Homo sapiens: one gene and its partner. The protein of the gene in region 1 purifies or fractionates together with the protein of each later gene. This does not show direct contact. Each region holds a gene or a part of one and is shown in the gene's direction. Other genes may lie near its edges.

The links. Proteins that work in one complex are often made in the same cells at the same time.
Region 2: the proteins of ACOT8 (region 1) and KLHL23 purify together in Homo sapiens (affinity purification with mass spectrometry; 3 studies listed by BioGRID and IntAct, with this or other methods). This does not show direct contact.

Annotation. Positions count from the first base shown.
Region 1 is NC_000020.11:45,854,380-45,861,779, reverse strand, and holds the start of ACOT8 (acyl-coenzyme A thioesterase 8), read left to right. Parts: upstream 1-4,387; 5' UTR 4,388-4,464; coding exon 4,465-4,592; intron 4,593-6,487; coding exon 6,488-6,621; intron 6,622-7,400. Other genes in the region: ZSWIM3 (zinc finger SWIM domain-containing protein 3), read right to left, coding at 3,800-3,954. UniProt on the Homo sapiens protein: Catalyzes the hydrolysis of acyl-CoAs into free fatty acids and coenzyme A (CoASH), regulating their respective intracellular levels. Displays no strong substrate specificity with respect to the carboxylic acid moiety of Acyl-CoAs.
Region 2 is NC_000002.12:169,728,981-169,736,847, forward strand, and holds the start of KLHL23 (kelch-like protein 23), read left to right. Parts: upstream 1-4,851; 5' UTR 4,852-5,107; intron 5,108-6,032; 5' UTR 6,033-6,034; coding exon 6,035-7,247; intron 7,248-7,867. Other genes in the region: PHOSPHO2-KLHL23 (kelch-like protein 23), read left to right, coding at 6,035-7,247.

The DNA of each region.
Region 1 (7,400 bases):
AAGACCCTGTCTCTACACAAAAAATTGAAAAAAAAAAATTAGCCTGGCATGGGGGTGCATACCTGTAGTCCTAGCTACTTAGGAGGCTGAGGTAGTAAGATTACTTGAGGCCAGGATTTCAAGGTTACAGTAAACTATGACCCTCCCACTGTACTCTAGCCTGGGCAATAGAGCGAGACCTTGTCTCCTAAAACAAACAAAACAAATCCCAACCCACCAACCTGCTTATCAACCCTCCAATTTCCTTTCCTGCTGCTCCAGCATAAATCCTTCCTTCTAGCTAAGCAGGTCTCCTCATGGCTTTTGTATGTGCGTGCAAACATACATCACTGCTTGCTTTTTTTTTTTTTTTTAGAGACAGGATCTTACTCTGTTGTTGCCCAGGCTAAAATGTAGTGTGCAGTGGTGCGATCATAGCTCACTGCAACCTCTGACTCCTGGGATCAAGCAATCCTCCTGCCGCAGCCTCCAGAGTAGCTGGTACTACAGGCACACACCACTATGCCTGGCTACTTTTTGTATTTTTTGTACAGATGAGGTTTTGGCATGTTGCCCAGGCTGGTCTAGAATGCCTGGCCTCAAGCCATCTGCCTGCCTCAGCCTACCAAAGTGCTGGAATTATACGTGTGAGCTGCCACAACCTGGCCCCTAATTTTAAATTTTGTTTTGTGGAGACGGGGATCTCATTTTGTTGCCCAGGATTATAGTCTGGGCTGGTCTCAAACTCTTCATTTCAAGCAATCTCCCTGTCTTAGCCTCCCAAAGTATTAGGATTACAAGTGTGAGCCACCGTGCCCAGCCCATCACTGTTTTCTAATAGAAGCACGTCATGTTTACGTCTGTACTGACTCACACCATTTTTACCTCCAGGTTATTAATCTTCTTGTGGCAGGCAGAATGGTCCCTTGAAGATGTCCTTGTCCTAATCCTAGACTCTGTGAATACGTTAGGTTACATGGCAAAGGAGAATTAAGGTTGCAGATAGAATTAAGGTGGCTATCAGCTGACTTCAAAATAGGGAAATTATCTGGGATTATCTGGGTGGGCCCAATATAATCACAAGGATCCTTAAAAGTGGAAGAGGGAGGCAGAAGAGGGAGTCAGAGACGTGATGACAGAAGCAAGGTCAGAGTGATGTGATGACTCAACCTGCTACTGCTGGCTTTGAAGATGGAGGAAGGGGGCCATGACCCAAGGTGTGTTGGGCAGCCTCTAGGAGGTGGAAAAGGAAAGGAAAAGGATTCTTTTTTTTTTTTTTTTTTTTTTTTTGAGATGGAGTCTCGCTCTGTTGCCGAGGCTGGAGTGCAATGGCACGATCTTGGCTCACTGCAACCTCCACCTCCCGGCTGCAATTCTGCTGCCTCAGCCTCCTGAGTAGCTGGGATTACGGGCATGTGCCACCTCGCCTAGCTAATTTTTGTATTTTTAGTAGAGACGGGGTTTCACCATGTTGGCCAGGATGGTCTTGAACTGCTGACCTCAAGTGATCTGCCCACCTTGGCCTCCCAAAGTGCTGGGATTACAGGCATCAGCCACTGCACCCGGCGGGAAATGGATTCTTACCCAGGGACTCCAGAAAGAAATACAGCCCTGCAGACATCTTGATTTAGCCTGCTAAGACCTGTGCCTGACTTCTAACCTAAATAACTCTAAGATAATAAATTTGTGTTGCTTTGCACCATTAAACTTGTGGTAATTCACTAGAGTGGCAAACAGAAAACCAATACACCTTCTGACAGCTCTCCATCTTTGGGGGCCCAGCTCAAGCCTCCCTTTCACTCTTACGTCTCTAGCTCGCAGTGATTTTTCTCTTCTGAGTTCCCGCAGCACCTATTTCCCTGAATCACATGGTTAGTACTTGATAACTCACTCATTCAATAATTATTTAATGCCTGCTATGGGCCACACCTTGTGCTAGCCACCTGAGATGGTCTTCCTGAAGGGTGTTTACGGGCAACTGTGGTTTTTTTTTTTTTTTTTTTTTTTTGTATTCCTCTCATTGCTTAGCAAGGTCCTACCCATAAAGGACAAGGTCCAAACACCTCACAATGGTCCCTAAAGACCCTTAGACTGCAAATGACTTCATCTCCTGCCAAACATGGTATCCCTCACTGTTACTCTAACATGCCAACCTTCTTTCATGTATCTTTGTCTTTGCTCCTGTAGGTCCTTCTGCACAGCAACTTCTGGTCAAATGCCTCCATGGTACTCAGTAATTAACCACAGATCTACTCTAGCACTCTACATTCATTCACAGCCCAGGGAAACCATCAATTCCAGTGTGAAGACTTCCCCCACCTCCCAGGCATTTGTCATTCATTTCTTTCTCCGTACATTTCTTTTTTTTTTTTTTTTTCCACATTCCTTTTAAAGCATTTATCACACACCAGTTTGCTTGAGTTCAAGTTTATCCTAGTTCTCTGGGGATAGTTTGAACACTTATTCATCTTTATGTCACCTATACCCAGCATAGCACTGGACTTCAGAACAGTGGAAAGAATATAGCCTGGCTGTCTAATTGAGGAGCTTTGGTTGAGCATCTCAATCCAAGTCTCAAACTCGGATATGCTTTAACTCTGAGTTGGCCCGCATGCTCTGAGTTAAAATTTGAACTGATTCAATTTTTTTAAATGGGAAAATCCACATAAAGTGTGGATTTCTGACAACTCTTGCCCAAAATTCTGGCAACACTAGATCTTTATTTTCATATGGCAGCCATCAGCTGGAGCTGATTAGATGGCATCTACTCTCCATTTGGCCCATTTCACACTTCTGTTGTCCCTAGCACAAAGACCTGGTGTTGGTTGCTATTTCATCATTCTTTTTCTTAAAGTAAAATTCAAAGTTAAAACTTTCTTACATTGGGTTGTTTCACCTAATCCCTGAAGGCATTTGAGTTTTCAACTCCTGTCTTAACCTCTAAGCCTGACTTCTCATCTGTCAAATCTTCTCATCTGTCAAATGCAAAAAAATAACATTTATCTATAATTCTGAAAAAAAAGCCCTGCAGGGTAAAGCATGCATAGAGAACACTGCCTGGCACATGGAAAGTGTTTGAAAACGGTTAATATAAGGAGCTCAAAAACCATTTACAAAATGAATGAATAGACCAGGCATAGTGGCTCATGCCTGTAATCCTAACACTTTGAGACGCCGAAAGATCGCTTAGTCCAGGAGTCTGGGAACAGCCTAGCCAACATAACAAGACCCAGTCTGTACAAAATCAAATAATTAGCCAGGCATGGTGGCGTGCACCTCCAGTTCCAACTACTTGAGAGGCTGAGGTGGGAGGATCGCTTGAGCCCAGCAGTTGAAGGCTCAGTGAGCTGATTGTGCCACTGCACTCCAGCCTGGGGGACAGAGTGAGACCCTGTTTCAACAAATATATAAGAACTAAAAACTGAATGAATGAATGAACGAACATTCCAACGACCATGTGACTGTTTTGTAAAGAGGAGACTGATGAAGGAAATTATCGCCAAGGTGTTTTTATCCGTTTATGAAAGCCATACTTTGTATTTGGGTTGCTGCAGCTGCTCAAAACAATGGGAGAAACTGCAGTTATAAATTCCAGAAAAGCCTGTGAATGGAGTGAAAGTGGAGTGGGTGGTCAAAAACCAATGGCCGTGGAGGCTTAGCTCTCTTCACAAGGCACACAGCAGGTGCTCAATGAGTGCCTGTTGAATGAATGGCCACGCAGCCCAATGCGTGCCTATGCACCCCTCCTCCTCCAGGCAGCCCTCCGGAGGTCCAGCCTCCTCCCCACCCTCTTGGCCCGCCCCGCCCCGCCCGCCCTTACAGGATGTCTTCGCGGATGGAGGTGCCATGGTTGAGGTTGTGGAAGCGGACGGAGACGCAGTCCCTGAGAATGAAGGAGCACCTGTTCTCCCTTTTGTAGGCGCTGAAGCACTCCTTGAAGTCCTCATAGGTCTTGAAGCAGCTGCCCAGCTCCATGGCCGCCCCCACAACCCACACTAGGGGCTGGTCCCAGCCCGGGCCCAAGATCACACCAGGGGTCAAAGGTCACACTATGAGGGTTTATAGGCAGGCGTGGGCCCAGAATGCCTTAAGGGTCCGCCCCAACTGGGTGGCCTATTCTGGAACTCAGGGAGGAACCCTAGGCCTGACCGGGTTACAAGAGGAAGGGGGTGTATTTGCTATCTGACAGGGGAAATGACACTCAGTCCATATTATCCAGTCCCGAGGTTCCGCCTCCTCAGCGACATATCCAGTCACACACAGGATTCGCAGATTGGCATTCATTTTCTCCAATTGCTAGAGAAAGAGGGCCACAGCCACCAGCGGACTGACAGGAGTCCTGACCAATCATAACCTAGATTCCTCCTTCCCGGGGTCTGCAGGAGACTTCCGGTTACTAGGGCAATCTGCCGGAAGAGTCAGGTTCTGTGTATGTCTCCGCGTCTTCCGCGGAGCGGGTGTGCAGGGCCTGCAGCATTGAACTAGATGTCGTCCCCGCAGGCCCCAGAAGATGGGCAGGGCTGTGGCGACCGCGGCGATCCCCCTGGGGACCTCCGTAGCGTCTTGGTCACGACCGTGCTCAACCTCGAGCCGCTGGACGAGGATCTCTTCAGGTAGCCGGCAGCTCCTGCCCAGCATCCCCTCCTTTAGGGCAGAAACTTGATCTTGACTGCCGCCGCCCGGGGCCCCTGGCTCCGGGACTAGTATGGCTCTGCGTGGGATGCACCCTCTGCCACGATTAGGAGAGAACTCGCCCCCAACAGAGCTGTCCTCTCTGCTCTGGCTTCCTCCCTTCCTCTCCGCGCTGCGAGGTCTGCACAGCTGAGCAAATATAGTGGTGACCTGAGAGACCCTGCTCGGCAGCCTGCCCTAAGCCTTCACGGGGGAGCTAGCCCAGAGAGGGCAGTGATTTGCCCAAGGGCACACAGCTGATGGATCAGCCTTAAAACCGACGCCGCAGCTCCTTGTGTCTTCAGTATCCTTTTCTTCTCACAATATCCCGCCCCCAGTACCATTTGGTGGGTCTGGTTTCTCATTACTTATTCTGAGGCCTAAGCATGTTTTTTTCTTTCCCAGCATCGCTGAAGTTCTTGACTGCAGCAAGGGTTTCTTTCTTTCTTTGAGGCGGAGTCTTGCTCTGTTGCCCAGGCTGGAGTGCAGTGGTGCGATCTCGGCTCAGTGCAACCTCCGCCTCCCGGGTTCAAGCATTTCTCCTGCCTCAGCCTCCTGATTAGCTGGGACATACAGGCGCGCCACAGCCCAGCTAATTTTTTAACTTCTTTTAGTAGAGACGGGGTTTCACCGTGTTGGCCAGGCTGGTCTCGAACTCCTGACCTTGTAATCTGCCCACCTCTGCCAAAGTGCTAGGATTACAGGCATGAGCCACCGCGCCCAGCCCCCTGCAGCAAGGCTTCTAACAGCTTTGACCTCCAAGGCTTCTCCTGGCTTTACTGGAAGTTATCTTACTTTGAGCTCCCTTCCTTCCACTTAAGGAATTGTAAATAACTTCTTGGAGGGCTATTTGATTTTTGTTTTTGAAGACAAGATCTGGCCCTGTTGTCCAGGCTGGAGTGCAGTGGCACGAACATGGCTCACTGCAACCTCGACCTCCTGGGCCCAAGTGACCCTTCTGCCTCAGTCTCCCGTTTAGCTGGGACCATAAGCGCTTGCCACCACATCCAGCTAACTTTTTTATTTTTAGTAGACATGAGGCCCCACTTTGGAGCCCAGGCTGGTTTTGAACTCATGGGCTCAGGCGATCCTCCCACCTCGGCTTCCCAAAGTGCTGGGATTGATTACAGGCGAGAGCCACCTGCCAGGTCATGGAGGGCTGTTCATAACTCATTGTTACAGAAAATGCCAAACAGCTGGGACGTGGGAGGCTAGAGACATAATTATTCAGCTTCCAATGGGCCTACATTCTGGGCAAGCATTTTCATCTCTGGGGCCAAGCTGCAGTTTTCTCATCTGTACACTGAAGGAGTTAGACTTGATGTCTGAGGGCTCTTGTTATTTATTCATTTATACATTTATTTAATTTTATTTTTTGAGATGGAGTCTTGCTCTGTCACCCAGGCTGGAGTGCAGTGGTGCGATCTTGGCTCACCTCAACCTCTGCCTCCTGGGTTCAAGTGATTCTCCTGCCTCAGCCTCCTGAGTAGCTGGGATTACAGGTGCATGCCACCACGTCCAGCTAATTTTTGTATTTTTAGTAGAGATGGAGTTTCACCATGTTGGCCAGGCTGCTCTTGAACTCCTGATCTCAAATGATCCACCTGCCTCGGCCTCCCAAAGTGCTGGGATTACAGATGTAAGCCACTGCGCCCGGCCCAGAGGATTTTTATGCATAAGGATATTTGCCTGGGGAAAGGACCTATGGCTTTTACCATATTCTCAAAAGGATCTTAAACCCCAATATGGTGAAGAGATCATGCATTAGAGTCTTAGTGAGGGTAGTAGAATTTGGCCCAGTTCCCAAGTCTTTCCCTCTTTCCCCCTCTCCCTACAGAGGAAGGCATTACTGGGTACCGGCCAAGAGGCTGTTTGGTGGTCAGATCGTGGGCCAGGCCCTGGTGGCTGCAGCCAAGTCTGTGAGTGAAGACGTCCACGTGCACTCCCTGCACTGCTACTTTGTTCGGGCAGGTAAACCCCCCACTTCCTGCCCCAACCCAACCCTGGTGGCCCAGCAGCCATTTCTGGCCTTGGGGGCTGAGGTCAAAAGGGAAGAGAGGGAGACTGGAAGACAAGGGGAGGGGTGGCGGACACTACCACCCTAAGAGGTGTCTAGGGTGGAACGAGGTCTGGGGCTAACAATGAGCCTTGGACCTCACACCTGCTGGGACTCACTGGGTACCTGATGTCTGGCTGATAATGACACAAGACTTTGTTGCTTAACTGCTCCTTGTGGGCTTTTGTTCTTCCATTCTTAACATAGCTCCTGGTGCGGAGCGCTGTGCTAGGTTCTCAGTGTGCTGTGACCTCTGTGCTAGAGGTGTGGAGGTAGGGCAGCTTGGGTTGGAGAAGAGAGCACCAGCCTGAGAGTCAAGGGATCTAAGGCTTCTTTTGTCAACTGAGCATAGGGTCAATAAAAACAAACCAAAGATGTAGGGCCTAGCTTCAGTTTTGTCCATAATTTACCATGCAGCCTTGTGAGGTTACCTCCCCGCCCTACAGTTTGGTTTACTTCAGCTGTAAAATGGAGAAGGGTGGGACCAAGGGTATTTTAGTGGGATGATCTCTACAGCTTCTTACAGCTCTGGGGTCAGATAATGTAACTTAAAACCTATGTGTGAGGCCGGGCGCGGTGGCTCACGCCTGTAATCCCAGCACTTTGGAGGCCAAGGCGGGCGGATCACGAGGTCAGGAGATCGGGACCATCCTAGCTAACACGGTGAAACCCCGTCTCTACTAAAAATATAAAA
Region 2 (7,867 bases), on another chromosome or scaffold:
GGTGATCCGCCTACCTTGGCCTCCCAAAGTGCTGGAATTACAGGCGTAAGCCACCATGCCCAGCCATTTCACATTTTATTTGCGGTATTGTCACTTTTTATTTCCATGCCATACTTTCATCCTTGTTGGTCAATACCCTTTCTCAATCACCCATTTTTGTAAAATGTCACATGGGTTTTTTACTAGCAGACAAGGAGACAATGCAACTGCAAGCCTTACTGTCTGTATGTGAACTGACAGATGCACAGAGATCAATCACTGACAGACTTTGAAAGAAGATACATGATTGGTCACTGATCAGGATGCGCATTTGTTAATGTAGTAATTCATGGACCTGAGGAGCTAGCAGCAAATTTGTATTTTATGCAGTTACTCAGAGTTAATTTACTTCAGTAACTGAAATTTGAAACCTTGTTCTCAGGGGACAGGTGTTATTTAACTAAACCATGGTAACTAAAATTCATACATATTGGAACCATTCAAAGAAAGCATTTTTGGCCAGGCCAAAAAAAAGAAAGACTTTTCTGTATGGTTTTATACTGAATATCTTTTATTAATCTCTTAACCTTCTCTGTGACAAAAATGTGTATAAATTACAATTTGTATGTCCTTGATGGTTTTATATCTTTGGTTATTTTACAAATCCTGGTCTAATTAATATTATAATTATTATTATAATTAATTAAACATAAATATGTTTAAATCAAAAGTAAAAAATTATTAAAAATTATTTCAATCTGATGAATAGGGCTACTTTCATTTAGAGTATGAAGTCAAGTAGTGCTTACTGCTGGAATGAGACAGTATTTAGGTTCAATAATGTTCCTGCTTAACATTTCTATAGACATAATCGCTGAGAAAACATGTTCACAGAGACAAATAGGTAAGAATGAGATAAATTTTATCATAGTGGCCGGGCGCGATGGCTCATGCCTGTAATCCCAGCACTTCGGGAGGCTGAGACAGGTGGATCACCTGAGGTCAGGAGTTCAAGACCAGCCTAGCCAACATGGCAAAACCCCATCTCTACTAAAAATACAAAAATGAACTGGGCGTGGTAGCATGCACCTATAGTCCAGCTAATCAGGAGGCTGAGGGAGGAGAATCTCTTGAACCTGGGAGGCAGCAGTTGCAGTGAGCCAAGATTACACCATTGCACTCCAGCCTGGGTGACAGAGTAAGACTCCGTCTCAAAAAAAAAAAAACAAACAAAAAACCTTTTTTATAGTAATGCCATTCATTTTGTCATTCCCTCCAAATTATTTGCCAAAAATCCTCTTTCACTTTTGCTGGAAACCAGGAATTGGAAACCTGTGACTTGCAAAAGCATTTTTACCTAGTTATTAGAATGTTCACTTTCTTATTTTACAGGAAACATACCAAAAAAGGTTTTACCAAGACACATCGGCTGCAGGGCAGCCACAGATACCTGCGTTGGTTGTGTACTATACAACTCCTGAGAGCAGTGTTTACACTGTACTCTACTTAAGTTGCATGAGCTGGAATTGTGCAGTGCACAATTTGCAAAGCTGTATGTGGTAGCCTTATACATTTTACCTACTATTGTTTTTTATTTTGAGACGGAGTCTCACTCTGTCGCCCAGGCTGGAGTGCTATGGCGCAATCTTGGCTCACTGTAACCTCCGCCTCCCAGGTTCAAGAGATTCTCCTGCCTCAGCCTCCTGAGTGGCTGGGATTATAGGCGTATACCACCACACCTGGCTAATTTTTGTATTTTTAGTAGAGATGGGGTTTCACCATGTTGGTCAGGATGGTCTTAAACTCCTGACCTCATGATCTGCCTGCCTCGGTCTCCCAAAGTGCTGGGATTACAGGCGTGAGCCAATGGGCCTGGCCTTTTTTTTTTTTTTTTAACTTGGCAGCAACTTGTTTAATCCAGTATGTAAATGAAGTATACAAAATGTTCTATCTATGCCCATCATCTACACACATTGTTAATGATATCACAGCATATCAAACATTTAATGGCATGGCTGTACTTAGTGGAAAGATGTACTAATAAGGTAAAAATTATAAATAAAATCATTATTTTTAGAACTCGGAGTCCTTTGAAAGCTGAAGTGTGATGTCAATAAGTCATCTAACTCCATGCCAAGCTTAGTATCTGCCAAATCATTTATGTCTCATTTCCATGGCAGCACTTTATTTCTTTAAGACTTGGAACCACAGATGGCACATCTGTTTTCTTGAACGGTATCATTAATTTATTTGATTTATGAATGCTAATTATATGTTTCTGAATGCATCAAATCTATCAGCATTTGCAATGGTCTCTTTGATAAGCACATGGTAAAGAGGAACTATGCCAGGCAATACCCTTCAGGACCTGCTCTTCTCTTAGCAAAGTGAAGCAGTATAATAGTCTAATATGTAATATACACTGATATACACTTTTAAGTAGTAATTCACAACCAGGGAACATCACGAAATGAAAGCAAGAGTTTTAGTTGGTTCATGCAGCCATCTGAAATAACTGCATAAATGAGAATATAGTGAATTCTATTATTCATGAATCATTTATTATTACATGTAGTTATGATTCCAGAAGCCCTTACTCCAAGTTAGATGGAGCCTATATTTTTTTATACATCAAACTTGGCAAACAGTAATTATAGCTGCAAAAACAGCCATCTCTACACTTCAGTGACAAAAATGGAGAGAAGTCTCCTTCAATCAGTCACAATTGTGTCCTTGAATGGCAACAGTGACAACAGCATCACTATCAGTTATGAAGGGCAAGCTATAATTACTATTAACTATGAAGTTCATAATTTCTGAAGAAATGTTAAGAAGATGCTAATTTCCAAATTAAGGTTGTGATGCAGAATTAAGTGTAAATATTCTTTCATTATAGTAGCTAACATTTATATATCAAGTCCTAAGTGCTTCATTATTAATTTGTCTTTCCAATAACCTTAGGTTAGGTTGAGAAAGTATCCATGTTGTCTGTGTTTTACAGATCTGAAGACGAAGGATCAGAGAAGTTTAGTAATTTGTGAGAGGCTATATGTTGGATAAGTGGCAGAGATGAGCCTTAAGCCCGAAACTAAATCTCATATGCTTTCCTTTTCTAACTATACTGTTTACCAGATGTTGGGATGTTAAACTTTCATCCTTCTTCCTTTTGGGTCCAACACATTCTCTTATTTGTCCATAAGAATCACCTGCTGCCCTTGATTAGAATGCAGATCCCTAGGTCTCCACCCCGCAGACGTCTGTGCGTGGGGTGTGGTAGTTGTGGGGGCTGCATAACCAGCATCTTACATAATTCAATTAAGATGATCTGACTTGTGGAATTAAACTAAAACCCACCCACAGGAGAACCAACAGATGCTATTTATTCAGAGTTTGCTGTAGAAGGGAGTCCCACTCACCATCACTTTGTCAGAGGCTCAAAGGTGGGGCAGACGAGTGGGAAAGCTTTATAGAAGTGAAGAAAAGCCCCCGGTATGCTCTGATTGGAAGTTGTTGGCATGGGAAAGCTGCAGGTGGGCTACTAGAAGCGGGGGTATTTTATGTGATGGGTTTGCGGAACATATTTGGCTTTCTCTGGTTGGTGCAGAGGTGGAACTAGGGGTAAAAATAGGGAAGTTGCACTTTGGAAGTCCCAGGCAGGAAGATCGCTTGAGTCCAGGAGTTTGAGACCAGCCTGGGCAACATAGTGAGACCCTGTCATGAAAAAATATTTAAAATTTTTCAAAAATTGCACATCTGTAGTCGTAGGTACTTGGGAGGTTGAGGCAGAGGATCTCTTGAGACCAGGAGATCGAGGCTGCAGTGAGCTAAGATCGTGCGACTACATTCCAGGCTGGGCAACATAGCAAGACCCTGTCTCAAAAAAGAAAAAAAATAGGGAAATTGCCAGTCGTTGACTACTTCCTGACTGTTCTGGTTCAGCTGCTACCAAGGTTGTGGTCTGGCTTCCTGGGCTTCTTATGTGGTTCAGAGTTCTGTTGTCACATACTATCTGGCCATTCATGTATATTGCGTTTCTGAGACCATACTCTGGGAAACACATGGTCCTCTGGTGGTGGTGAAGGTCCCTGTGAGCTAGGGACCATCTGTCAACACTCTTATCACTACTAGTGTCTATCCCTATCAGGCACTAGAAGCACTTAATAAAATCTTGCGAATGAATGAATGAATGATATACAAAAATATTTGATACTGGCTTTAGTTGGAACAAGAAAATGAACTTTGTGTACCACATAGACATCTGTGACTAGAGTGGCCGTCACCAGAAAGGCTGCTCCTTCCAGCTGCTATGCTCTAAATACAATAACCTGAATCTTAGCACGACTGGACTTCGCCTGGACTTCGCCTTGGCCCCGGCTGCCCAAAGTTTCTCTCAAAGCTTCAGCTTAACCCCTGATGTGCTCACCAGCACCAAGGCGCCCTCCTGAGTGCTTTGCTGGGGGTGGGATGGCGTTTGTGGGAAAGGCCGGCTACTTCTGGCATTTCAACGGCGCCTCCAATCCCTGACCTTTAGTTGTGCCCCATTCTCTCCACTCTTTCCCCCTTCTCTGTCCTCACGATTGAGTCTGGGCTGGCGAAGCCTACTGAGGGAGGGGAGTGTACACACATGCACACGCGCGCGCGCGCACACACACACACACACACACACACTCATATATGGTGTTATTAATAATTCAGGACTCAGAGTTTATCTAAGAGAAGACGCTCGACCGGGTGTGAGAGAGCGCGCGGGACAGAGAGCGAGCCAAGGAAGGGGAAGGCGGCGGCGCGCGCTGTCTCCTGGGGAAGCAGTCCCACCTGCTGTGGGGGGCGCCGCTGGGGAGGGGCCGAGCCGTGCTCACGCCTGCACGCCCCGCCCCGCTCGCCGCACGGCCCGGCGACGGGGGAGTTCCCGCGAGTGGCCTCGCGCCCAGACCGTGCGGGGGGCTGTTCGGGTGGAGGCGGGGGAGCCGCCGGGACACCAAAATAGGAGCTGCTTGTGGGGTGGAGCGGCACTAGCTGGCGGCTTCCGAGCGCCTCTTCCAAAGATGGTCAGAGGGGCCGGAGGCGTCCCCGCTCCCGCTCGCTACTAGCCCGCGGGCCAGCGCCGCGTCCCGAGCCCCGGCGGGAGGTAGGTGCGGTGTGGACCCGCAGCCCGAGGCCGGCCTGCTGGGAGCGAGCGGGGCCGGGCGCGGGGAGCGGGGCCGGGCGCGGGCAGCGGGGCCGGGCGCGGGCAGCGAGGCCGCGCGGGAGAGGAGCGCAGACAATGGCCGCGCGGGCGCCGGGCCGGGCCGAACGCGTTGCGCTGGGGCTGCCTGCGGCGTCCTTCCCACACCTGCGCGGAGCGCCGGGCAGAGGGACGCGGGCACCGGGCCCGCGGGCGGCACGCGGCGCCCTCGAGTCCAGCCCCGCTCCTGGCCCCGGGGCGGGGCGGTCTCCGGGCGGGAACGTGGGCCGGGGCCCAGGCGCGGGGCGCGCGGAAACCCCTGCGGCGGGCGCGGGGGAGGGGGCGAGGGCTGCAAGGGCTGCGCCGAGCTGCCTTCCTTTCTCTCCTTCCTTAAGCGAAAGGGCTCGGGATTTCCCTTTTCCGAGACCTCTTCTTGTCCATTTATATTTCCATCATCCCTTTCTTGGCATTTCGATGTGATTTGAAAGGGAGACGAGCTTGGGGAAAAGGTTGAATTGGGGCCGAGCCGAGACAGCTGAGGTCCGGCCTCGAGTGGGGTGACCCTCGGACACTTGCCTTGCCTAGTGTGGGATCTCATCTCCGAACGCCAGGCCAGGGTAGATTGCGGTGAATGGAATAGCAAATCAGTACTCTCAAAAGGACTACTGAAAAATCCAGGAGCCTCATTTCAAGCTCCGAGCTACCCTGAATTTAAATTGACCACCATATAAATGATCAAACAGTCCATCCACATTTTGCATTTATTATTTAGATGCTGAACTTAGTCCAGTTTTGGAGTATATCCGATGATAGTCAAGTTATTTAGCGTTGATTATTTGAGAGAATGTGCAACATTGAAAACACATTTGTTATTTCATATTTATTGCAGCCATGGCTCTAAAAGGACAAGAAGATTATATTTATCTTTTCAAGGATTCAACACATCCAGTGGATTTTCTGGATGCATTCAGAACATTTTACTTGGATGGATTATTTACTGATATTACTCTTCAGTGTCCTTCAGGCATAATTTTCCATTGTCACCGAGCCGTTTTAGCTGCTTGCAGCAATTATTTTAAGGCAATGTTCACAGCTGACATGAAAGAAAAATTTAAAAATAAAATAAAACTCTCTGGCATCCACCATGATATTCTGGAAGGCCTTGTAAATTATGCATACACTTCCCAAATTGAAATAACTAAAAGAAATGTTCAAAGCCTGCTTGAGGCAGCGGATCTGCTACAGTTCCTTTCAGTAAAGAAGGCTTGTGAGCGGTTTTTGGTAAGGCACTTGGATATTGATAATTGTATTGGAATGCACTCCTTTGCAGAATTTCATGTGTGTCCAGAACTAGAGAAGGAATCTCGAAGAATTCTATGTTCAAAGTTTAAGGAAGTGTGGCAACAAGAAGAATTTCTGGAAATCAGCCTTGAAAAGTTTCTCTTTATCTTGTCCAGAAAGAATCTCAGTGTTTGGAAAGAAGAAGCTATCATAGAGCCAGTTATTAAGTGGACTGCTCATGATGTAGAAAATCGAATTGAATGCCTCTATAATCTACTGAGCTATATCAACATTGATATAGATCCAGTGTACTTAAAAACAGCCTTAGGCCTTCAAAGAAGCTGCCTGCTCACCGAAAATAAGATCCGCTCCCTAATATACAATGCCTTGAATCCCATGCATAAAGAGATTTCCCAGAGGTCCACAGCCACAATGTATATAATTGGAGGCTATTACTGGCATCCTTTATCAGAGGTTCACATATGGGATCCTTTGACAAATGTTTGGATTCAGGGAGCAGAAATACCAGATTATACCAGGGAGAGCTATGGTGTTACATGTTTAGGACCCAACATTTATGTAACTGGGGGCTACAGGACGGATAACATAGAAGCTCTTGACACAGTGTGGATCTATAACAGTGAAAGTGATGAATGGACAGAAGGTTTGCCAATGCTCAATGCCAGGTATTACCACTGTGCAGTCACCTTGGGTGGCTGTGTCTATGCTTTAGGTGGTTACAGAAAAGGGGCTCCAGCAGAAGAGGCTGAGTTCTATGATCCTTTAAAAGAGAAATGGATTCCTATTGCAAACATGATTAAAGGTAAGTGGAGATTATGTTTATTTTGTATTTTTTAGATGTCTGGAGCTAGGCCAGCAGTCTCACTTCTCTTGAATTTATCACTTTGGGATGCTATCTAGGAACTATAGTTAATTATACAAATAATGCTACACAGAATGTTCCAGATAAAAACAGTATAGCATAGTTCCCAACTTGTCTGAGAGTTATGAGAATTTATATTCAAGTCAAGGGCTAGATGAAGAGACAAATCTGGACAGTTTTTCATTTTTTCATGTTCTTAAAATTGAACCCTTTAAAATTCTGCTATTCAACTTTTTCCTCTCAAAATACGCTGATCAGCTCTCAAGAGGTCCTTCATTAAAACCTTGGAAGGTTTGGTCCCTACAGGATGTAACAAAGTACATTCTTCCAGGAACTAGAGACAACGTCTGCTTTTGCAATTCAGTCCTCTCTGAGAGGGGCAGACACCATACTCTCCCTCATGTGGCCCACAGAACCCGGCACACCCCTGGGTCTCGGTATCTGTCTGATAAACACTATTTTCTGCTGTGTTTGGCGATTTGTTTGCCTTGCTCTCCTTCTCTCCCACTGGAAAAAAAGTTAAACGGGAATCTTATTTCATTGTATTTATTCATTGGTGC